7 linked regions of the Homo sapiens genome follow. The protein of the gene in region 4 interacts with the protein of the main gene of each other region in a pairwise test. Each region holds a gene or a part of one and is shown on either strand. Other genes may lie near its edges.

Region 1 (3,500 bases), on a different chromosome or scaffold from region 4:
CTCGGAGGCTGAAGCAGGAGAATGTCTTGAACTCGGGAGGCAGGTTCAGCAGTTGCAGTGAGCTGAAATCACGCCACTGCACTGCAGTCTGGGCGACAGAGTGAGACTCCATCTCCGAAAAAAAAAACAAAAAAGAAAAGAAAAAAGACAAAAAAAGAAAAAAAGAAACCAGGCGTTCTAGCCACCAGGGTTCCTAGCTCTGCTCCTGACTCGCTGTGCCCCCTCCCTCATCTGGGCTTCAGTTTTTTTGGTACCTGTCAGTCGGGAGGTTGGATTTGATAATCTCCAAGCCTTCTCTGCCTCTGAAGTTCAAGGTGCAGAGGTGGGGGGTCCCAGAGGCAGGCTGAGGCCCCTGACCTCCGGGCTCCCTGCCCATGATGGTGTCTGCTCCACAGTACGTCGCTGCCCCGCCCTCGGGACTCCATCCGCAGCTGTGCCCTCAGCATGGACCAGATCCCAGACCTGCACTCACCCATGTCGCCCATCTCCGAGAGCCCTAGCTCCCCTGCCTACAGCACTGGTATGGCCAGCAGAGGGGGTGGAGCAGGTGGAGGGAATCTGTTGTTGAAGACTTCTGTCACCTATGTGTGGTTATGTGTGTTTCCGCCTCTTTTATGAGGCGCGACCTTTACCAAGAGAAAGAACTGACACTGGAATCCTGCTAACAGAACTGTTGATATCAACATATAAGATGTATCCATGGTTTGTTTATTTAGCAACTATTTATTTGTTTTTGTGACAGTTTTGCTCTTGTGGGCTGGAGTGCAGTGGTGGGATCTTGGCTCACTGCAACCTCCGCCTCCTGGGTTCAAGCGATTCTCTTGCTTCAGCCTCCCAAGTAGCTGGGATTACAGACCCCTGCCACCACGCCTGGCTAATTTTTGTATTTTTAGTAGAGACGGTGTTTCGTCATGTTGGCCAGAGTGGTCTCGAACTCCTGACCTCAGGTGATCCACCTGCCTTGGCCTCCCACAGTGCTGGGATTACAGGCGTGTGCCACCATGCCTAGCTAATTTTTGTATTTTTAGTAGAGATGGGGTTTCACCATGTTGGCCAGGGTGGTCTCGAACTCCTGACCTCAGGTGATCCACCCGCCTCAGCCTCCCAAAGTGCTGGGATTACAGGCATGAGCCACTGCACCTGGCCTCTATTTTTCTTAATAGACTTTATTTTTTAGAGCAGTTTTAGGTTTGCAGCAAAATTAAGTGGAAAGTACGGAACACTGTGCTTTCTTATAAATACGAAGAAAGTTTCTCTGTTAGAAACATTCCAATAGATCATTTCTGGAAAAAAAATAAAAAGAATGTTTTCAACAGGCCGTATTGTCCACGTGGCAGGCCAAGTGTCACGAGAGGGGGCTGACTCAGGAGGAACTTTCGCCTAGGGTGGCATTCCATTGAAGTGTTGCTGTCTGTATCGGTTGTCACAAATCCTTCCCTAAACACAGAGCCACCAACTTTGTCATAACTACAAACTTGATTTCAAAGCAATACCCTGAGTATAAAACCTAAAATTCCTTGCCAGAATGACTTATTGGACAGTTTCTAAGCAATCTGGTATAGTAAAGCAGCCCAGATGTCAAGACTTAAATCTCAGCTGTACCACTTGCTGGCTGGGTGACCTTGGGCAGGTTAGTGCACCTCTCTGAGCTTCACTTTTCTCATCTGTAGAATGAGGATTATAAAAGTACTTACTTCATAGGACATTGAAAGGATTAAATAGACTGAGGTACAAAGAAGGGTCTTGCAGGCACTAAGAGCTTAGTAAATATCGCCTTTGAGGTTTGATGATGGTTTTACTGTCATTATGTCTCCAGCATGTTGCCAGCTCCTAGCACACAAGGTTTAGCAACAAATCATTATTGCTAATTCAGGCCGGGCATGGTGGGGCACATCTGTAATCCCAGCTACTCAGGAGGCTGAGGCACAAGAATTGCTTGAACCTGGGAGGCGGGGGTTGCAGTGAGCTGAGATCATGCCATTGCACTCCAGCCTAGGCAACAGAGCGAGACTCTGACTCAAAAAAAAGTTAGCCAGGCGTTGTGGCACATGACTGTAATCCCAGCTACTCGGGAGGCTGAGGCTCAAGAATTGAAGAATTGCTTGAACCCAGGAGGTGGAGGTTGCAGTGAGCCTAGATGGCACCACTGCACTCCAGCCTGGGCCACAGAGCGAGACAGTGACTCAAAAAAAAAAAAAAAAAAAAAAAAAAGGAAATCATTATTGCTAATTCGTCGAGAAACAATCACATGTGGCACAAGAAACTCCAGCAGGTACTCAGCTTCCCCGGATCACTGAAGCTCCTCCAAGCAGTGGGTCCCCAAGGCTGCAGCAGCCTCAGGGTGGGGCCATGCAAACTCCTGGGTCCTGGTGATTTCAGAGCATCACCTGGGCTGGTCAGCTTGCCAGAGTCAATCGGCCCTGGTCTCTGGTGATGCAGGGAGGTGGGGACATCACCTCTGTACTCCCTACAAGGAGTGAGGGAGCCTGTTCTTTGGGAAGGGGTGCGGGAATCTCACTTTGGTGGGGAGCTGCTATAACGGGGCCTCTCTCTCTACCTTTCTGCAGTAACCCGTGTCCATGCCGCCCCTGCAGCCCCTTCTGCCACAGCATTGCCTGCCTCCCCTGTCGCCCGCCGTTCCAGTGAGCCCCAGCTGTGTCCCGGAAGTGCCCCAAAGACCCATGGGGAGTCAGACAAGGGCCCCCACACCAGCCCCTCCCACACCCTTGGCAAGGCCTCCCCGTCACCATCACTCAGCAGCTACAGTGACCCGGACTCTGGCCACTACTGCCAGCTCCAGCCTCCCGTGCGTGGCAGCCGAGAGTGGGCAGCGACTGAGACCTCCAGCCAGCAGGCCAGGAGCTATGGGGAGAGGCTAAAGGAACTGTCAGAAAATGGGGCCCCTGAAGGGGACTGGGGCAAGACCTTCACAGTCCCCATCGTGGAAGTCACTTCTTCCTTCAACCCGGCCACCTTCCAGTCACTACTGATCCCCAGGGATAACCGGCCACTGGAGGTGGGCCTTCTGCGCAAGGTCAAGGAGCTGCTGGCAGAAGTGGATGCCCGGACGCTGGCCCGGCATGTCACCAAGGTGGACTGCCTGGTAGGTGCTGGCTGTGCACTGGGGTGGAGGGAGCATCTCTGTTCTGTGGGGCAGGGCAGTGAGAAGCTGGCTCCCAGATTCCCCAAGTACAGCAGGTGGGCCTGGATTCTAGCTCCATGGCTGTCCTTTGCCTGCTCTGTGACTCTGGGCTGGTCATTTAGCCTCACTGGGCCTCCAGTTTCTCCTTTTAAAAAGGCCGGGGGTGGTAGCTCACACCTGAATCCCAGCACTTTGGGAGGCCGAGGCGGGCGGATCACCTGAGGTCAGGAGTTCAAGACCAGCCTGGGCAACATGGCGAAACCCCGTCTCTACTAAAAATACAAAAATTAGCTAGGCGTCGTGGTGGGCGCCTGTAATCCCAGCTACTTGGAAGGCTGAGGCAGGAGAATCACTTGAA
Region 2 (3,500 bases), on a different chromosome or scaffold from region 4:
TTTTACTGGGTAGATACTGCTGAAGGAAATACAGGGTGCAGATAGTTCAGCTGGTCAATAATCCATGATTCAGGTTGGATAGGGAAAGAAGGGGGGTTAGGAGGGAATGCCTAGGTAGGTCAAAATGTAGGAATCACAGGACTGGAGAAGTCAGAAGTAGAAAAGCAGATTGCTAGGAGAGACAGGATGACAGATTTTGGTCAGAAAATGGGATATTGGAGTTTAAAGTATCAAATACAGAATAGTTCCAGATGTTCAGAGATCCAGCATGGGATTAGGTACTGAAATGGATTAGAACTAAAAGTCACTAGAATTTAGAAATTGAGAACCATGAGAGTGGATGCAATGACTTGTTGCTTGATTGAAAAATAAATTAATAATAATAAAGGACCATGAGACTAGCCTGTTATAGGGGTTATCTCCATGAACATTGAATTTTCCCAGGATCATAGCAGGAATTGGGTAGAGAAAAAGATTATGAGAAGGTGCCAGAGTCTTCAGTGAATGTCAGGAAATTACCAGGAAGTCAGCATATGACAGAGAAAAGGACAGTATGTTATCTGCATCAAAGGAAAATGTGCTTTTGTTGAAAAGTACAGAAAAAGCCAATACTACAATACTGTGCTAAGCCCCTACCTGTACTCCTCTACCCAACAGCTGCATTCCAGGCCCTGTGGTATAAAAGGTGTGAGAATGAGCATCTCCCACCAGAAATCAGACAGGTTTAGTTAAAGCAGTGAGGCAGAACAAGCATCCTATGAAGAGACTGAGGATGTAGGTGAGTGGTTCTAAAATCTCAGTAGAAGGAACATTGCAAGTAGAAAGAGCCAGCAGTAAGGATGCACGTAGCAGTCTAGAAGTAGAGGTGAGACCAGCTTGGAGATGAAATGAGGAGATGTCTTCTGTTCTGTGCTGGAGAAGTACTGGTAAGTGTGGTGTGGTTGGGATTCACAGGCCTCAGCCATCCTCACTTTGGTACAAGTTATTTTGGTACAGAACTACTAGAATGTCCCAAAGGCTGTAGTACAGGAACATTTCTGAAAGGACAAAAGCTGCCATGAATATTGAGAAATTGTATGGTGCCAGGTACAGCCTGGATCTGAGCAAGACTGCTGGATGGTGTGTGGATAGATAGTGAAGGCCCAGATTTGGGAACAGATTGGATCTCAGATATCCAGAGCAGCACTGTAGAATCTAGTTGCATATAATAATGTTTTAAAAAGGGTATCTTAGGCTGGGCACGGTAGCTCCCGCTTGTAGGCCCAGGCCTTTGGGAGGCCAAGGTGGGCAGATCACTTAAGCCCAGGAGTTCAAGACCAGCCTGGGCTGCATGGCGAAACCCCATCTCTATAAAAAATAAAAAAAATAAAAAAAAAATAGCGGGCATGGTGGCATGTACCAGTAGTCCTAGCTACTCAGGAGACTGAGGAGGGTGGATTGCTTGAGCCTGGGGAAGTCAAGGCTGCAGTAAGCCATGATCATGCCACTACACTCCAGCCTGAGTGACAGAGTGAGACCTTGTCGCCAAAAAAAAAAAAAAAAAAAACAGGGCTACCTTACTCTGGAAAAAACACATGTAGCATTGGCTGAATAAAGAAATGGAGCTTCATGATTAAGGACATTTGGAATCAGAGTGCAATAAACTTTTTGTCTTGTAGCTATAACCAGAATGCATGGCTTTGAAAATCACTGCAGCAGTATATATTTAGCATCTGGTCGCTGAATAGCAGTCTCTTGTGACTGAGGATGATTTTCCATGGTTCCTTTTTGTATTCTGAAATGACTAATGGAACCATCTGGGATCAGCAGATTTTAAGTCCCTGAAGGCTGGAAAAGACTTATACTTGGCTTTATAATTCCCCACAAAGTCAGGCCCAGCACCTTGCACTTAAGTGTTTATTGAATAAAAGAGTGACTTGTGTGGAAGTTATTCATTCTGCTTTAGCTGTTTTTGTCATTCATTCCCTTTTAACTCTTGTAGTTTGTTGTGACTTTAACTTTCTTACGCTTTTTTTGTGGAGCTGCTCGATAAATATTTGACATAGGTATTATGTCATTTTATGGCTCATCCAGTGTCACACAAGTAGTAAATGGTAGAGCCAAAACTCAAAATCAATGTCAGTGGATTCTGAAGGTAGGTGCTTTCTGGTACGCTAGAATTAGTACCAGTATAAGAGGCATAGGAGTGATCTTGTTTCCTGAGCGGAAAGCTTTATTTAGCCCTGTGGTCCTACCCACTCATGCAAGGATGCTTCTCTTTCTCGTCTCACATGAGAACCCTGATGACTGAGAGATCAACAGTGTTTCCTCAGGCCCAGCTGCCCTGCCCAGCGTTCCTGCATCCCACTCTCTACAGGCACAATGTTAGTGGAGCATTGTTCCTAGAGTATTCTTCATCTTAGTTGCTTTACCCTTGCTTCATATATTTGTATGTCTCACGTTTCAGATTGCTCTCAAATATCCCTGAAGCACTTTTTTAAAAAAAATTGTGGTGAAATATACATAAAATTCATCATTTTAAACTTTTTAAACTATGATTCTGAATTAATTTAGAATACTTCTGATGTATAAAATGCTATGTAAAATACGATTTTGCTGTTGGCTTCTGTATTAGTTTTTCATTGCTGTATAACAAATTCCTGCAAACTTAGCAGTTTAAAACAGCATACCTTTGTTATCTCACAGTTTCTATGGATCAGGAGTCCAGCCACAGCTTAATTGGGTCCTCTGCTCAGGGTCTCATTGGGCTACAGGCCAGTTGTTGACTGGGTCTGTAGTCTTATCAGAAGCTTAACTGGGGAAAGATCCACTTTCAGGTTTCCTCCGCTGGCAGAATTCATTTCCTCTAAGCTGTAGGACTGAGGTCCCCATTTTCTTGCTGGCTGTCAGCCAGGGACCACATTTAGCTTCTAGGAGCTGCCTGTAGTTGGTCCCTTGCCATGTAGTTCTGTCCATGAGCCTTCTCATAACATGGCAGCTTAGTTCTTTAAAGCCAGCAAGGGAGAGAGTCAGAGAGCAAAGTTTCTGACTCTCAGGGAAGGCCTGGACCCCCTTTAAAAATATACCTGATTAAGTTAGGGCCACCCAACTCAAAATCTACTGATTTGGGACCTTAATTACATCTGCAAAAACCCCTTCACTTTTGTCATATAATCTAATCATGGGAGTGACATCTTGGCGCATTCTGTTGGTTGAAAGCAAGTCTCATAGGTCCCACTCACGCTCAAAGGGAGTGATTACACCTCCCCTTGGTGAGAATGTGGAGTTTGAATACACGGGGTGGGGGGCATTTTAGAGTCTGTGTGCTATGGTTTCCTTTTTTATCCATTTCATAGGGTTTTTTATCAGCAATTGGACACCCTTTCCCCAAAATGATTTTTAATCATGGAAGGAAAAAGAGAACTTGGAATTACCTTGAATTTGAAGAAGAAGAAAATAAACAGTTAGCAGACTCAATGGCTTCTCTGGCATATCTAGTATTTGTACAGGGCATCCATATT
Region 3 (3,646 bases), on a different chromosome or scaffold from region 4:
TTTTAATGTAGTTTATTTCATCATTTTTCCTTCATGAGCCATGCTTTTTTTGGTGACATGTGCAAGAAATTGTTTATACTCAAAGATAATGAAGATATATCTTCTATGATATCATCTAGAAACTTTGTTTTACCTTTGCTGTGTAGATTTACAATTCATTTGGAACTGAATTTTGTGTGTGGTGTGAGGTAGAAAGTGAAGCTTTTTTGTTATGTTGATGAAAATAGAAAATGTCCAGCTTCTCTGTAGAGACATATTTGCCATAAATCAAATGTCCGTATGTTGTGTCAATTTCTGTACCTTCTGTTCTATTTTATTGGTCTATTTATTTTTGTGTTGCTACTTAATCATTCTAATCATGGTAGGTCTATAATTTTTAATATATGATAATGTGTTTCTATTTTGTTGTTATTCAAGTTTGTATTGCCCATTCTTGGCCCTTTATGTTTTCATAAAATTTACCTACTTGTCTATTTCTACCCCAAAAGGGAAAACAATTAAGATTTTGATACAATCTATTACAGCAAATATATTGATCAGTTTTAGGAAATTGCCATCTTAACAGTATTTTCTTCCATACCATGAACTTTAGCATGTCTTTCCATTTGTTTAGATCATCTTTAAATCATCTCATGATTTAGACTTTTCTGTTTAGTAATCTTGCACATCTTCTGTTAAGTTTATCTCTAAGTATTTCTTTTGATTCAGTTGTAAGTGGTATTTTCTCTATAAGTAGAAATCTGGATTGGTAGTTATTTTCTTTCAGCACTTTGAAGATATGATTACCTTGTCTTCTGATTTTCATTGTTTGTTTTGCATATGGATAGCTAATTAACCTGGCCCCATTTATTGGTAAAGTCAGCTATTGACCTTCTTGCTCCTTCGAAAATAAACGTCTTTTTTCCTCAACTTTTTTCTTTGTGTTTGTCTTGAAAAAGTTTTACCATACTGTGCCTGGGTGTGCTTCTTGAATATGTAGTTTGATGTCTTTCATTATGGAAAATTCTCAGCTTTTGCCTCCTCAAATATTGTTTTTGCTCCTATGAAAAAATTTTCTTGTTTTCTTCTGAACTATTTTTCTAGTTCACTAATGCTCTCTATATCTAATATCCTGTAAAAAAATCATCCACCGACTTCTTAATTTATTATGTTTTTCAGTTTTAAGATTTCCATTTATATGCTGAAATCATCCATTTTGTCACTTTATCCTTATTTAAATTGTTATACTAAAGTTCAGGTGTGATAACTCCAATATCTGGATCTTTGGTGGGTCTATTCTGTTTTCTTAATTTTCCTCTTTATTTTCTTTCAAGTCATGTCTTGTTATTTGTCTTCTTATTTGCTATTGCATTTCAGATGTTGGGTATGAGTAACTAAAAATAATTTGAGGCTGTGGATGATATCTTTCACTAGAGAAGATTAGTTTTACCCCCCAGGTAGTCAGAATAGGGTGAAATCAACTTAATCCAATCAGGCACAAATCCTTAAGAGGGCTGGTATATTTTTGTTTTACTACTCCTTGGAGTTAGCCCTTTGGAATCACAAATGAATCCCTGTTTTGTTTTGTTTTCTGTTGTTGTTTTTAACTAGGGCTTCTCCTCTTCAGCGGGCCCTGCTCTTTAATTTTTGTTTCTCACCACTCTGCCAAAGTCTAACTTCTGAATGCTCTGCTAAACTTCTTGGCCTATCAGACATTTGTTTTGTTTTAAATTGTCACTATCCTTGCGGGAGGAAAAGCATCCTCATTTTCTTTCCCTCCACTCTGGGACTTTGTAAGTCCTCACTACTTAAGTGTCTTTCAGATGCCTTCAAACAGATTTTAAAAATTTTGTCCAGATTTCCTAGTTGGTCTCAGAGAAAGGTTTGGTTTGAAGCAACATAGCCCTTGCTGAAAGCAGAAACTTCATTTTAAGTTTTGGTTAGATAAAAAATCAGAGCCTGTACTGTTGTTGCCATTTACTTATACTAGCATTAAAATTGTGTGTGTTCACATGAAACACAGTAGTGTTGCCTGAGTCCAGTGTGTTTTGATGTATGCTTAGGGAGGAGGTAATTAAACATTAATGAAAGAAACTTGGGGAAGATCATCCTATACAAACACCTTCATGAGAAAGCTAGCAGCAGCATCTCTGAAGAGGAACCCATGTCTTTCTAGCTTCAGGGTGAAGTGCAGTGAATGGGGTATGGATGGAGGACATTAAAATGGCAAAATCTTGTGGCCCCAAATAAAGATTTGGGGGTAAAACTGTTCCTGGACTCTCACTATGCTGAATAGGTTAATGCTTCTGCTGAGGTCAGTGGAATGAGTGTAGCTTGGTGCCCTCAGCTATAATGAGTGATGAAAACAATGCCTTGGATTGTTTTTGTTTGTTTATAAATCAGTTTTATGCACCCTACAAAACTGATCCACAAATTTCTTTCTATTTTGTAGCTCATTCACCAACAACTCTTGGACTCCAGCCCTTGTTACCCCATTCAATGACACAACTGCCAATAAGTCATACCTAATTCTTTTTTCAGGGATAGACTTGATTAAGGATATAAATTTGTCATTTATTATGTATAAAATACCATTGAAAAGATATTACTGTTAATTTTTTATTTAACACCTAAAGCATTTCCAACATCACTTTGCTGCCCAGGTATGTATCTATAGTTGGCCTGCAAGACACTTTTATTAATTCTTCATTTTTTGTAAAACTTATGTTTACAAGAAGAAAACAAATCAAAACATTTTTTGTATTGTCTGGAAATAGTTCACTCTAGTGTGTATCTGTTAATTTATTTGTCATCAAAAGAGCACTTTGCCTAAAAGAAAGGACTGACAAGTGTGCAAAATGTTTACAATCTTTTGTGAAATTGTAGTTTATCATTAGTTTGTATCTGTAAGTTATTGTAATAAATATTACCTGTATTTTTTGTTATATACAACTTTATACTTTGAAGCTTGTATCTGTGAATTTGCAACTGAAATTTATTTTGCCAATGTTTTCTGAATGAACTGAATAAAGCTTCTGTTGTAGCATGCCATGCAAACACATTATTGTGTTTGTGGTTGATGAATTATGGCTGTAAATAACACTATAGTTTAATAAGCCCACCATTCTGAGTTTATTAAACATTTTCCATTCTTGTGAAAATTTCAACCAGTTTGTCCTTTTTGTGTGTTTTCAGCAGTAAGTTGACTTTAGTCTCTTTAAAATCTAACAACTAATAAGTTTAAAAAGTATTGTGTTTTGAGCTGCATTGTATGAACACATTTGAGTAGGAAACATATTATTCAAAAAAAAAAAACACAGTAAAACATTTAATTTGGCAAAAATTGTCTTTTAGGCCAGCTAATAAAATCAATGTGAAAGAGAAGGCAGAACACTTTTCAGAATGGACTTCGGAGGGTATTACAAGCCAGAAATGAAATATGGGCCATAATATATTTCTTCAGGAGTGAAAAAAGAGAACTAAAAGTTTCTAGAGCAAGAACTCTTTGCATTTTCTTCTTGGTGAATACCCTTTAGGGATGGTGATTCTGAGAGCTGAAATCTTAAACCTCAGGACTTTATCTTATGTGGCAGTGGACTTACAAATTTTTGAATTTAAAGAATTTAGTACTCACTTTTTGTCTTTTTATATGCCAGTTGGGGAAGAA
Region 4 (3,133 bases):
TAGCTTGATTCTACCAAATGACATCATGGAGCAAGAGCACTGCGAAGGGTTATAGCAAAGGGAAATAGGGTATAAGAAGGCTTTCCTATGCGCTTGACTTGCTTTTGAGTTAGGGACCCTCTCAGCCACTGTTACTACTCTTTCTTTTAAGTAGATTCCTACATTTGTAATTGTGGAGAAGCAGTAGCACAAGTGATTGAGAGCGCAGGCTCTGGGATCAAGCAGCTTAGGGTTCAGATTATGCTCCACAAGCTGTGCCAGCGATATGGCATCAGACAAAGTACTAACCTCCCTCTTCCAGTTTTCTTTCCAAAATGGGGTAATGACAGTCCCTCCCTCGTAAGGTTGTTGTGAGAATTAAATGAGATGAGTTGATTAATGCAAAGATTTGCACAGTGTCTGGAAACGTTGTTTGCACTTGGTACCTGTGAGTTATTACCTGAGCCTGTGGCCCTTGATGGAAAAAGCTTATAAGCCCCCACCAGACAGGACTGGAAACAGAATGATACATGTTTCCTTTTGGTTGGCCTGCCAACCCCCTTCACACACACACACAAAGACACACTCTGTCCTGCAATGGAAGGGCCCATTGCTAAATGATGATGCCTGCTGGAAGGATCCCAGGCAGTGGTGACACACACACAAGAATACACACTTTTCTCCATGGTAACCTCAGCCTCTTCTGGTAGAAACTTATTTGCTCAGACTGAGAGCAAAACAATTGCTTTGTTTCTGTTTTCTTTCTTATTATGCCTAGGCACACTGTCTGGACTAGGCCTCTCCCAGTCTCTCAGAATGAGAGGTCTCTGTGGCTGCTTAATCTAACCTTTTGCTAGTGAGGGATAATGACTTGGGAACAGAGAGAAGGTCTATGAGAGACTGTAGCAGGGCTTCACATGTTTTGGAAGACATTCATTCAACATGTGTAATGACCAATTCCAGGTCAGGCCTTATTGCAAGGACTAGAAATATAGCCGTTCCTATGTTCATAGGGTTTACAGTATAAGGGAAGAAATCGATACAAAAGAAGCAAATAGACAAATAGTATAAAGTACGAGGATGGAAACAATAGGTGGAGACAAACAGAGAATGGGGCGGGGAGAAGAGTAAAGAATCGGCCTCTCTGAGGAGAGCTGGTCTAGTTGAAGGAACTGAAAGGAAGAGGGAGAATGCAAGCGGTGAAGCTGGAGAGAAGCTAGGGCCCAGGCAGAAAGCTGCATCCAGAGTTCAGGTTTTTTAGCTTGAGGGAAATGCGGAGCTCCGAAGGGTTCTAAGCAGGGGTGACGTGACCTGAAAGGGGTCTGAAGACCCTTCTCCCCACTCCCACCTCCCCAACCAGACCCAGCTGGCCCGGGCACTGTATGACAACACCGCTGAGTCCCCCCAGGAGCTGTCCTTCCGCCGAGGGGATGTCCTACGGGTCCTGCAGAGAGAGGGCGCTGGTGGACTGGACGGCTGGTGCCTCTGCTCCCTACACGGCCAGCAGGGCATTGTGCCCGCCAACAGGGTGAAGCTCTTGCCTGCTGGCCCAGCACCCAAGCCCAGCCTCTCTCCTGCGTCCCCAGCCCAGCCTGGCTCACCATATCCAGCCCCAGATCACAGCAATGAGGACCAGGAGGTGAGAGTGGGAGCCTCCCCAACCCCAAGCCAGAAGAGCCCCATTCCTCCCCAACTAGCCCCACCCAGGGCCTGCAGCAGGTGGGCAGGAAGAGCCCTGAGGCCACAGCTCTTCACTGCTCTGCGCTGGACGAAACCTGTCTACCAACCTTTCTGAGCTGTGGCCCTCTCGATACAGGGAGAGTTAGAAGGTCTCTAAGCTCCTCGCACTCAGACATTATCTGATCACCGGCCCCTCCGTTCCTCCTGACCCCCCATCTATTTGATCCCTCAGGTGTATGTGGTGCCGCCCCCAGCTCGGCCCTGTCCAACCTCAGGACCTCCAGCTGGACCTTGCCCACCCTCTCCTGACCTCATCTACAAAATCCCCAGAGCTAGTGGGACCCAGCTGGCTGCTCCCAGAGATGCCTTGGAGGTGAGGGCTAGAGGTCCCTGTGTATGTTGGGTGGGAGACAAATGGCCCCAAGGGAGGGTTCATCGCTGAGCTGACAGATGACTGACCACTCCTTTCCGCAGGTCTACGATGTGCCCCCCACCGCCCTCCGGGTGCCCTCCAGTGGCCCCTATGACTGCCCTGCCTCCTTTTCCCACCCTCTGACCCGGGTTGCCCCGCAGCCCCCTGGAGAGGATGATGCTCCCTATGATGTGCCTCTGACCCCAAAGCCACCTGCAGAGCTGGAACCAGATCTGGAGTGGGAAGGAGGCCGGGAGCCGGGGCCCCCCATCTATGCTGCCCCCTCCAACCTGAAACGAGCGTCAGCCTTACTCAATTTGTATGAAGCACCCGAGGAACTGCTGGCAGACGGGGAGGGCGGGGGCACTGATGAGGGGATCTACGATGTGCCTCTGCTGGGGCCAGAGGCTCCCCCTTCTCCAGAGCCCCCTGGAGCCTTGGCCTCCCATGACCAGGACACCCTGGCCCAGCTTCTGGCCAGAAGCCCCCCACCCCCACACAGGCCCCGGCTCCCCTCAGCTGAGAGCCTGTCCCGCCGCCCTCTGCCTGCCCTGCCTGTCCCTGAGGCCCCCAGCCCCTCCCCAGTGCCCTCTCCTGCCCCAGGCCGGAAGGGCAGCATCCAGGACCGGCCTCTGCCCCCACCCCCACCCCGCCTGCCTGGTTATGGAGGCCCCAAGGTCGAGGGGGATCCAGAGGGCAGGGAGATGGAGGATGACCCAGCAGGACACCACAATGAGTACGAGGGCATTCCGATGGCCGAGGAGTATGACTATGTCCACCTGAAGGTGAGCGCCCCTTGGCAGCCCCACCAGGAGGGACCCCAGAGGGACCAAGGGGAGGGGTGTGGAGACCTAGGGCACAGAGGCAGAGCCTCCCTGCCTCCCTTCTGTCCCCCTTCCCTCTACCCTGCAGCCTGGGACCCCAGTACTTGGCCACAACACTTGTACCAGTGCCACACTGTTCCTCCTAGACCCAGCCTGGGGCCACCAGAGCTCTCTGGAGTCAAGGGACTACAACCTCTGATAACAGGAGTGTCCTTCGGAAGGAAGGGGGTCCGGGGAA
Region 5 (3,500 bases), on a different chromosome or scaffold from region 4:
CTTAACTACTAGTAATACTATGCTATAAAAATTTTGAAACCTAGATTTTGAGATATTGAGCAAACTAAAATATGTAGTATTTACTATAGTGCAAGAATACGTCTGACGGGTTAAATGCACGCGTTTTGGAAAGTGCTCAAACCCTTCACCAGATGACACAGTTATAGCACAACAACAGCTGAGGTTATTGTTATCTAATCTCCTTTCCCTCGTTAACTTTAGCACAGAGAACTGAAATAATTGGGTGTGAAGGCATCTTGATAATCTACCAAAAAGGCTCATTTTTAAGCAGCCAAGCGTTGCTCTCTTAAACTTTTGTTGTTTAGTAGCATAAAGTGTAGGCAACCTGTATGAAGTATAAATATCTGGTATTAAAAAGACCCAGTGAGGCAGAAGTCGCTGACTCCTCTCAATAGGTGGAAGAGGATTCTCCATGCAGCCGAAGGCTTAATGAAGCACATTTCCACCAGCCAGGCTGCTGCCTCTGTGGTGTTACCTCTTCAGAGGACTCAGTGCCTCTGAGAAGCTGGCTGTCCTCAGCGAGAAGTAAGTACAGGGACTTCTGTTTAGAGGAGACTAGAATGAATATTTATACTAATAAATTTTCTCCAACATAGCCAAAATCTCATTTGAATATGTTTTTCTTTCTGTGCATTTAAAACACTTGCCATTCTTCATGGCATCCCATGCTTGTACTCTTAGAGGATCTTCACGAGTGGCACAGCTCTTGGCTAGAATCCTATTTTTTTTTTTTTTTTTTTTTTTTTTTTTTTTTTTTTTTGAGACGGAGTCTCGCTCTGTCGCCCAGGCTGGAGTGCAGTGGCGGGATCTCGGCTCACTGCAAGCTCCTCCTCCCGGGTTCACGCCATTCTCCTGCCTCAGCCTCCCGAGTAGCTGGGACTACAGGCGCCCGCCACTACGCCCGGCTAATTTTTTGTATTTTTTAGTAGAGACGGGGTTTCACCGTTTTAGCCGGGATGGTCTCGATCTCCTGACCTCGTGATCCGCCCGCCTCGGCCTCCCAAAGTGCTGGGATTACAGGCGTGAGCCACCGCGCCCGGCCTAGAATCCTGTTTTTGCTATAGTTTGTTGGACTCCTTGCGGCTAATCCTTGCAGCTATATTAGTCTCTGAGGGATGCTGAATTGAATAGAACATCAGAAGATTTGGAGCCTGACGGGTTTATGTTGCCCCTGTCCTCAAATTCAACTATTCCAGAAAAAATGTACTAGGACAAGGAACCTGAAAAGAAGAACTATTTCTAACAATGGATTGGATGAACTCTCCCATTCAAAGCAGAGGATATAATTCATTATAAGACTTGTAATTTACTTTAACCACTGGGAAAACATCTCAGAGGGAAGAGAGAAAAACTGAATTTCTGATTAAATTTAAAAAATCAAAAATTTAATAAGTAGGCAACCGTATAAATGAACAGAAAAAAACAAAATATCACCGAAACTTTCAGATAATGTTCTTTGTTAAAAATAAGTTTCCCTAAATTATAATATGAATATATAAAGAGAAATTAGAAAATATAATGAGAACATTACCAGGCCTTTTTGTTTTCTTTCTTTTTTATTGTGTTTTTGTTTTTTTGAGGTGGGAAAATCTTTGAAAGTAAGACCCTTGATTGGATTCAGGAAAGTGAAAGCTTTCTGAATTTTTGCTCAAATAATGCTTCTCTAAGGTACAGAATTTAATGCTGAATTTATGTCTACCTCACCTGTATAGGGAAGAGGAAACCACTGCTTTTTTGGCCAAAATTCCTACTTGGTAAACTAGTATATTTCCGTTTTGAAGACCAAGGTGCAGTGAAGTGTGGTGGAGTTCCATATGGATCTGTTATGCTGCAAACACCAAAGTAAAAACCCGTCTTTGCTGGTTCCCCGTCATTTATTCAGCAAATATCATCTTAATTGAACTTAAGCTGAAACGTGAGTTCTTATTTGCCAATACTCAGAACTCAACAGTTGCAGAAGTGTTTCCTTTTAACTGCATGTCCATGTCTTGAGTTTTTCAGAAATAATACAGAAAAACATATTTTGAAAACATATTTATCTGTATTTTTCCACGTGACAGTGGCAGTTTAGGATTTAACAGGCATATCCATAATTAAATTGTTAGTTTGAGGAACTTCCAGAAAATTATCTAATGCAATCATATATCACAAGTCTTCTTTATAAAATACAAGTGCAACTCATTTCATTATGCTATCCATGTAGTTAGACATAACTGAGACCTTTAAAAATATTATAAATGACTTAAAATAGAAAATGTTAGAAACAGTACAGGCATATTACAAAATCATGGTTTCTGAAATCTAATTACTATATGCAATTTAAAATAATTAAACATGATTAGTCTTTAAGATGAATAGAACCAATTCCAACTTTAGCTATTATTTAATTATAGCATGCTGTACATTAAAATCAGCTGGAAGATAGCCAAAATAAGCTTTAAAGGACAGCATGATAATTAAGAATTGCTATTTATCTTACTTTTATTAGAAAACTCAATGCTGGAATGAATGCAATAATGTCAAGAAATATGAATTTAAATAATTTCCTAAATATTTTACTTTCTAATCCCAAATATCAGGATATTTTAAACTTCCTCATCAATTCTACTTTATATACAAAAATTCATACAGTATTAATTAGAACTTTTGCTTTCAACACAGATATCTTAAAGACAAGGAATTATGTATTTATAACTTCTTAATAAAACTATGGGTACATTCTTATTTTTGATTGTGGCAGTTTTTTCATAAAAAGGCTACTGAAATCAGGCTTATTTAAAAAATACTAATAATGTTATCTAATATAGAACAGAGGGTAGGAAGTCTCTGTAAACAAACCTATATCTATATCAAGAGTGATTCTAAGAGAATATTCTCTCCCTTACCCAGGTACTCAAGTTGTAGGGTAACATAACTAGTGTAACGTAACTAGTGATTTCCAGTCACCTTTTAGGTTTACTTAGGAACATTAAAAGAAATGCTGCCATTGTAGACTTCATTTCAATTATTTAATCTCTTTCCAGTTCACGACCTTTACTTTCTTCTGGTTTCAGCAAGAAAAACAACTTCATAAGTGTCTTACATTATAATCGGCTACTAATCATCATCAACTCAACATTAGTTTTAAACAGTCTGATTCCATAACAAATTTGTAATAGGGATATTTTCTATACATTTTATAATAGCCATGGATAGAAAAATAGTATTATTTATATACTAAAACATTCAAGTTGTTTTGTTTAAAACATACATTGTAAAATTTTCCCTCGGGAAATTTGGATTTATTATAGGACAGTTGTAGCTTTTATGAAATTGGGATCCTGAAGCCATATTTTCAAATCAGAAAAATGAAAGCCTCATTGTTGTTTTTCAAATGTTTTAAGTTTCCTTGATAAAAGGCAGTATTAGGACTTCTATTTCTAGGTCAAGTCTATATTTACAGTAACTAATAGGAAAATATTGAAGTCTGAGGTTACCAG
Region 6 (3,500 bases), on a different chromosome or scaffold from region 4:
GCTGGTGGTGGGTCTTGCCTCAATATTGATGGCTTGTTGCTTCACCTTGCATTTTTATGTTATAGAGACAGCTTCTCTTCTTAAACCTCAGACTATCTCTGCCAGCTTCAAACTTTTTTTCTGCAGCTTCCTCATCTCTCTCAGCCTTCATAGAATTAAAGAAAGTTAGGATCTTGATCTTGATTAGGCTTTGGCTTGAGGGTCTGTTGTGTCTGGTTTGATCTTCTACACAAACCAGTCAAACTTTCTCCATATCGGCAATAAGGCTGATTCACTTACTTATCATTTATGTATTCACTGCAGTAGCACTTCTGATTTCCTTCATGAACTTTTCTTTTGCATTCACAGCTTGACTGTTTGTCACAAGAGGCCTAGCTTTTGGCCTATCTCAGCTTTAGTCATGCCTTCCTCATTAAGATTAATCATTTCTAGCTTTTGATTTAAAGTGAGAGATGTGAAACTCTTCCTTTCACTTGAAAATTTGTAGGCAATTGTAGGGTCATTAATTGGCCTCATTTTAATATTTTTGTGTCTCAGAGAATAGGGAGGCCCAAGGAGAGGGAGAGAGATGGGAAAATGACCAGTTTGTGGAGCAGTCAGAACACAAACATTTATCGACGAAGTTTGCTGTCTTGTATGGGCAAAGTTTGTGGCGCCCCCCGAGACATTACAATAGTAACCTCAAAGATCACTGATTACAGATCACCATAGCAGATATAATAATAATGAAAGTTTAAAATATTTAAAGTTAATAACAGTTACCAGAATGTGACACAGAGACACAAAGTGAGCACATGGTGTTGGAAGAATGGCGCTGATAGACCTATTTAACACAGGTTGCCATAAACCTTTGATTTGTAAAAAACTCAGTATTTGCAAAGCATGTTAAAGCAAAGTACAATAAAAGGGGGAATGCTTGTATCTTCTGTTCCTCTAGACTCTAAGCTAAGTACATATCTTATTGGTCTGTGCCATTGCAGGTGCCTCGAGCAAAGGCCTTATGCAACTACAGAGGGCAGAATCCCGGTGACCTAAGGTTTAATAAGGGAGATATCATCCTTCTCCGGAGACAGCTTGATGAGAATTGGTACCAGGGGGAAATCAATGGCATCAGCGGGAACTTCCCAGCCAGCTCCGTGGAAGTCATCAAGCAGCTGCCCCAGCCGCCCCCGCTCTGCAGGGCCCTCTACAACTTCGACCTACGAGGCAAGGACAAGAGTGAGAACCAGGATTGCCTGACCTTCCTCAAGGTAGGATTCTGGGTGGCCACCAGAGTCACCTGGGACCACGTAGAGACCATAGCAGAACAGAGTTCCTTGTTTAATATTTGCTGATTTTAAAAAATTGTATTTTAAATATATTATATTATTGTTAATATTTTATTCATAAAAATATATTTTGTGCATAAATTACGTATGTATATATGTAGTGCATATATATGTAATATGTGTGTACAATTCAAACTACATGCACGTGAAATCTCTAGAGAAATCTACGAATAAGTGATAGAAGTCTGTAAGCCTTTTTTATTGTAATTACAAAAGTATTCACTCATTCATTCATTCATTTATCCTGAAACCATTGTAGAAACATTTGAAAATACAGATAAGCAAAACAAGGAAAATATTACACCACAATATAGATACAATCACTGTCAACAGCTTGAATAACACATTTGATTTATTCATTCTATCACTTTTGAGCATTTACTCCTTGAAGGCCCTGGGAATAGGACGTGAATAAGTCACAGTCTCTGCTCTCCTGGCAGAGTAATGGGAAGCACCGATACATGGACAGAAAATTAGAAACAATTTGATAACATGCTATGTAAAACTACAGCCTCTACCTCTTTATCATGTATGTGGCAGGGTATTCTTGCAACCAAGTTATGGTTACCTAATTCTACTCATTTACATTCTATCTTGTTGTAAACATCTCATTCAAAACACTCCAGACACACACAATAACATAATCGTGCCTTTCTACATAAATAACCTCTTACAAGATATATTTTTCAAACATTAATTACCCTAAGATTTCTTGTGCCTCTCTTTTTCATTAGATGATTCCCCACCATTTGCAATTAATGACAGTTGTACTAAAGTCTACACTACTTTAACTATCTGTATTCAGTATTTGTTATTCCATAAACATTCACATCTCTCATAGAAACCACAGTTGGAGTTATTTTCATTCTTGACTACTCGTGATAAGTAGATCAAATGTAAGTATAAAAAGTGGCACTGCTACAATAGCTTAGGCAAGGTGTTTCGTTTTACAAAATGTTTTTATTCCACCACTACCAGAAAGGAGATTTACTTCAGGTTTTCTCAAACTAGACAACCTCTCTGCCCTCCATATTTTGAGATAATGATCTTTATTATTGCCGTGGAACCTCAGAGCGAGACTCCTAAGGAAGGTCATTCTACAGCCCAAACAGCAAAGTGTAGACCTAGACTACAGCTAGAGGAAAGTCAGTTCAATTCCACAAATATTTATTATTTACTTTGTGCCAGGCATTAGACACACAGCTGGAGGAAGACATAAGGAAGTATCATCGTCTGCCTCTCTCACCCTTTCTGGGAATTTGTAAACTGGGGCACTTACTTCACACACTCATTCATTTCTTGAGCCCATCCATGTGCCAAGCTGGCCATTGGAGATAAAGTGATGAGTCATTGTTCTTACCTACACTGAGCTGGCAATCTAGTGGAAGAAACAGACATATAAATGGGAAATTATGACAAAGAAACCAAAAGAGAGGATTTGACCCATTCTGGAAGGCTGTGAAATACACAGACTTCTAGGAAATCTCATGGTCTAAACTCAGCATATCCAAATTAAACTCAAGATCTTCCTTCCCAAAGCTGTTCTTTTCCTAGTGCTTTCTAGCTCAGTAAATTGTGTAATTTATTCAACGTCATGTATTTATTCATGCATGCATGCATTCAATAAACTTATTGGCTGACTACTAAAAGGGAGCCACTGTGTTAGGTGCTAGGGAAAACAAAGATTAACAAAACAGACATAGGCCCTGCACACATGAAGTTTATAGTCAGATAGGGTAGACCGACATTAAAGAAATAATAACCTCCTGGCACGGTGGCTCACGCCTGCAATCCCAGCACTTTGGGAGACCGCGGCAGGCGGATCACTTGAGGTCAGGAGTTTGAGACCAGCCTGGCCAACATAGCGAAACCCCGACTCTACTAAAAATACAAAAATTAGTCAGGCGTGGTTGCGCGTGCCTGTAATCCCAGCTACTCAGGAGACTGAGGCAGGAGAATCGCTTGAACCCAGGAGGCGGAGGTTGCAGTGAGCCAAGTTCGCGCCATTGCACTCCAGCCTGGGCAACAGAGCGAGACTCCATCTAAAAATTAAAAAAGAAAGAAAAGGAAGGAAGGAAGGAAGGAAGGAAGGAAGGAAGGAAGGAAGGAAGGAAGGAAGGAAGGAAGGAAGGATAACCTATAAATGCATAATTGCACATGTGTAAGAGCAGG
Region 7 (3,500 bases), on a different chromosome or scaffold from region 4:
ATGGCGTGAACCTGGGAGGCAGAGCTTGCAGTGAGCTGAGATCGCACCACTGCACTTCAGCCTGGGTGACAGAGCAAGACTCTGTCTCAAAATAAAAAAAATAAAAAAATAAAAAAATAAAAAATTAGCTGGGCGTGGTGGCGTGCGCCTGTAATACCAGCTACCCGGGAGGCTGAGGCAGGAGAATTGCTGGAACCTGGGAGGCAGAGGATGCAGTGAGCTGAGATCGTGCCACTGCACTCCAGCCTGGCTGACAGAGCGAGACTCTCAAAAAAAAAAAAAAAAAAAAAAAAAAGTACATTTCAAAAAATAGAAAGAACATTACAGCTTCTGCAGGTCAGTGTAGTCATCAAATATTGCAACACAATGATACCACATTCCTACGTCCTTTCACTCGGCCTCTGATGCTGAAAGAAGATTTGCATCTGGAAAGTGGCTTTTCATCATTAGCTTGCTTCATTCATACACTATTGTTTGTCTTTTGAGTTGAGTAAAAGATACAAGAAACATTTTATTTCTCACCTTGTCTATACTGAGCACAAACATTGGAAAGGTCCACTTGATTGCTAATTTTTTGATATTCCTTTAATGATTCCCTTAACATTCTTTCTTTTTCAGTCTTATTTTGAACTTGTCGGGAACGCTGGAGAAGCTCATTTGCCTAGAAGAGGAGATAACAAGAACTTAAAAATATATAAAATCAAGCAGACAGATGATGCTGTCAACTAAGTTTTAGTCTATGTCTAAATTTATATATGGTTATTACCATTAAAATGAAAACAACTCTACAAACTTACTTCTTAATTTTAGGCAGAAAAGTTTTTGACCAAAGATTCCTAGCTATTCTTAATTCCTCTCCCAAATATGTTAAGCAAGAGAACTTTTGTCTGGTAATTCTCTTGCCTAGTCAATACATTATTGGGCAGCAGGCAGTCCATGTGACACTGATTTATTTATTTTTTCCACCTGTAGGAAAGGATCAATAAAAATGCCCCCATTAACTCTAATTCACTAAAAGATTTACTTGAAGTTTTAGTACTTTTCCTTAAGCTAAGGAGATAAATTATCCCCTAAATTTCCTTAATTTCTAAATTTAGTGATTTTTCTTAATTTCTCACCTTTGGTTTTTTAATATGGCCTAGAAACACTATCAAAGATTCTTTATGGGCCAGGCGCAGAGGCTCATGTCTATAATCCCAACACTTTGCAAGGCTGAGGCAGGCGGAGGTCAGGAGTTCAAAACCAGCCTAGACAACATGGTGAAATCCTGTCTCTACCAAAAATATAAAAAATTAGCCAGGTGTGATGGTGCACACCTGTAATCCCAGCTATTTGGGAGGCCGAGGCAGGAGAATCACTTGAACCTGGGAGGTGGAGGTTGCAGTGAGCTGAGATCGTACTCAGTCTTAAAAAAAAAGAGAGAATATTCTTTATGAAAAACTTAAAGGAGGGCTGGGCATGGTGGCTCACACTTATAATCCCAGCACTATGGGAGGCTGAGGCAGGAGGATCACTTGAAGCCAAGAGTTCAAGACCAGCCTGTGCAACAAATCAGAACTTGTCTCTATAAAAAACAAAAAAATTGGCTGGGTGTAGTGGTGCACACCCGTAGCCCCTAGCTACATGAGAGGCCTGCTTGAGTCTAGGACTTAGAAGCTGCTGTGAGCTATGATCACAGCACTGCACTACAGCCTAAGCAACAGAGTGAAACCCTGTGTCAAATAAATAAATAAAAATATTTTTAAAAAGAAAAGCTAAGCTTAAAAGAGTATACACTGGTTTTAAGAAGCCACATATTCCAACCCCTTTCTTAGATGAGGATTCTGAGGCTAGGAGAGGTTAAGAGATCTAACTGACTGAGGTCCTATATTAAGTGAAACAAGATGGTTCATCATACATGATACCTCTTATAACAAACAATGAAATAGGTAATAAAGTATCATACCTTAGAACAAATTGCATCATCAGTGCTATATAGAAGTGGGCAGATATCCTGTAAATGTAAACTAATGCCATCAACAGCGGCATTATCTCTGATGTAGCAGTTGATAAGAGAAGCAATTAATGCCCCTGTGAGTTCTTTGTCCCTGATTACAAGATCTTTAAAGGTGGTGATCTTCAGCTGCTCTTGAAGTTCCTAGGAGCATAAAACTTTTCTATCACAATTATAGAAATACCATATTTCTAAACATAATGAAATTATTTTAATAAATTAAAATAACCTAAATATTAATAGACTCTATAATTGAAAAGCGAAAATATACTAATTAGTAGAAACAAATTTTTGCGAACTTACATAAAATCATAGAGAGTTGGAAAAGAACCTACAGTAGATCTAGTCCAAAACTCTCACTTTCCAAATGAGAAAAGTAAAGCTTAAGTAGAGCCAAAACTAGAGTCAGATCTCCTGGCTTTGGTTATAAAATGGAAAAAACAATCACTTGGCTATATTTGAAAATCTTGGGCTTACATATTACTCCTTCCTAAACACTGTTAGAATTCCATTATTCTAGGCCTTATAATAATATTGGAGTTTAATCTGTATTGTGAACAAATCTGCTTGTCCAAATGAAGCTCTAAAGTATTGATTTATACTATAGTAAAAGATTCTGTTAGTGATGTGACTGCTATCTCTTTTTTCTAAATTCAAGGAAATACCCAAACTGTGTTAAAATTCTTGAACAAATCTTTAATTTGCATTCATTGAGCATGCCATTGGTGATGTAAGGAAGAGAGCTTTGAAGATGGATCACAAAAACATACCCAGGATAAAAACCTACCTACAATATATTTATCACTCTATAAAACTCAAAATTATTATTCTACTTGGTATGAAAAAGATAAGTTTCATAATTAAATATATTAGCTTGAATTTTTAAAAATAAAAAACAGTATGTATTTAAAAGAAACAAAACCACCAACAAAAGCCACACTATTCATTGGACACTAGTGGAAAGAATGAGGAGACTGCCTTCCAACGTTGAAAAATGGTATACGAGAGTCAAAAAGTAAGTGTTTCAGAGTAATGAAATATCCATACAGGACAAGGAAAAAGAATTTTTTTTTTTTTTTTTACAGAATTGCAGCTAGTAACTGGGGAAGGAATCACAGATTTAAAATATTATCCTTTTGGCCGGGCATGGTGGCTCATGCCTGTAATCCCAGCACTTTGGGAGGCCAAGGCAGGTAGATCACCTGACGTCAGGAGTTCAACACCAGCCTGGCCAACATGGCGAAACCCGGTCTCTTACTAAAACTACAAAAATCAGCCAGGCGTTGTGGCACATGCCTGTAGTCCCAGCTACTCGGGAAGCTGAGGCAGGAGAACTGCTTGTACCCGGGAGGTGGAGGTTACAGTGATCTCAGATTGCTCCACAGCACTCCAGCCTGGGTGACAGAATGAGACACTGTCTCAAAAAAAATAAAAAACAAACAAACAAATAAATAAATATTACCCTTTTGTAATCCTAAATGAAATAATAAATTCCAGCAATGATTAT

What was found.
Region 1: the proteins of EFS (region 4) and SH2D3C interact in a two-hybrid assay, tested with the Homo sapiens proteins (2 studies listed by BioGRID and IntAct).
Region 2: the proteins of EFS (region 4) and GLMN interact in binary tests that used the Homo sapiens proteins (3 or more experiments, as listed by UniProt).
Region 3: the proteins of EFS (region 4) and LHX8 interact in binary tests that used the Homo sapiens proteins (3 or more experiments, as listed by UniProt).
Region 5: the proteins of EFS (region 4) and SORBS2 interact in binary tests that used the Homo sapiens proteins (3 or more experiments, as listed by UniProt).
Region 6: the proteins of EFS (region 4) and SH3RF2 interact in binary tests that used the Homo sapiens proteins (3 or more experiments, as listed by UniProt).
Region 7: the proteins of EFS (region 4) and NUP155 interact in binary tests that used the Homo sapiens proteins (3 or more experiments, as listed by UniProt).

The regions. Positions count from the first base shown.
Region 1 is NC_000009.12:127,744,167-127,747,666, reverse strand, and holds part of SH2D3C (SH2 domain-containing protein 3C), read left to right. Parts: intron 1-395; coding exon 396-520; intron 521-2,567; coding exon 2,568-3,103; intron 3,104-3,500. UniProt on the Homo sapiens protein: Acts as an adapter protein that mediates cell signaling pathways involved in cellular functions such as cell adhesion and migration, tissue organization, and the regulation of the immune response.
Region 2 is NC_000001.11:92,271,488-92,274,987, reverse strand, and holds part of GLMN (glomulin), read left to right. Parts: intron 1-3,335; coding exon 3,336-3,500.
Region 3 is NC_000001.11:75,158,388-75,162,033, forward strand, and holds the end of LHX8 (LIM/homeobox protein Lhx8), read left to right. Parts: intron 1-2,431; coding exon 2,432-2,508; 3' UTR 2,509-3,146; downstream 3,147-3,646. UniProt on the Homo sapiens protein: Transcription factor involved in differentiation of certain neurons and mesenchymal cells.
Region 4 is NC_000014.9:23,359,040-23,362,172, reverse strand, and holds part of EFS (embryonal Fyn-associated substrate), read left to right. Parts: intron 1-1,339; coding exon 1,340-1,618; intron 1,619-1,891; coding exon 1,892-2,032; intron 2,033-2,133; coding exon 2,134-2,856; intron 2,857-3,133. UniProt on the Homo sapiens protein: Docking protein which plays a central coordinating role for tyrosine-kinase-based signaling related to cell adhesion. May serve as an activator of SRC and a downstream effector. Interacts with the SH3 domain of FYN and with CRK, SRC, and YES.
Region 5 is NC_000004.12:185,805,695-185,809,194, forward strand, and holds part of SORBS2 (sorbin and SH3 domain-containing protein 2), read right to left. Parts: intron 1-3,500. UniProt on the Homo sapiens protein: Adapter protein that plays a role in the assembling of signaling complexes, being a link between ABL kinases and actin cytoskeleton. Can form complex with ABL1 and CBL, thus promoting ubiquitination and degradation of ABL1.
Region 6 is NC_000005.10:145,999,078-146,002,577, forward strand, and holds part of SH3RF2 (E3 ubiquitin-protein ligase SH3RF2), read left to right. Parts: intron 1-980; coding exon 981-1,250; intron 1,251-3,500. UniProt on the Homo sapiens protein: Has E3 ubiquitin-protein ligase activity. Acts as an anti-apoptotic regulator of the JNK pathway by ubiquitinating and promoting the degradation of SH3RF1, a scaffold protein that is required for pro-apoptotic JNK activation.
Region 7 is NC_000005.10:37,308,607-37,312,106, forward strand, and holds part of NUP155 (nuclear pore complex protein Nup155), read right to left. Parts: intron 2,138-3,500; coding exon 1,946-2,137; intron 967-1,945; coding exon of another isoform or gene 916-966; exon of another isoform or gene 817-915; intron 662-816; coding exon 523-661; intron 1-522.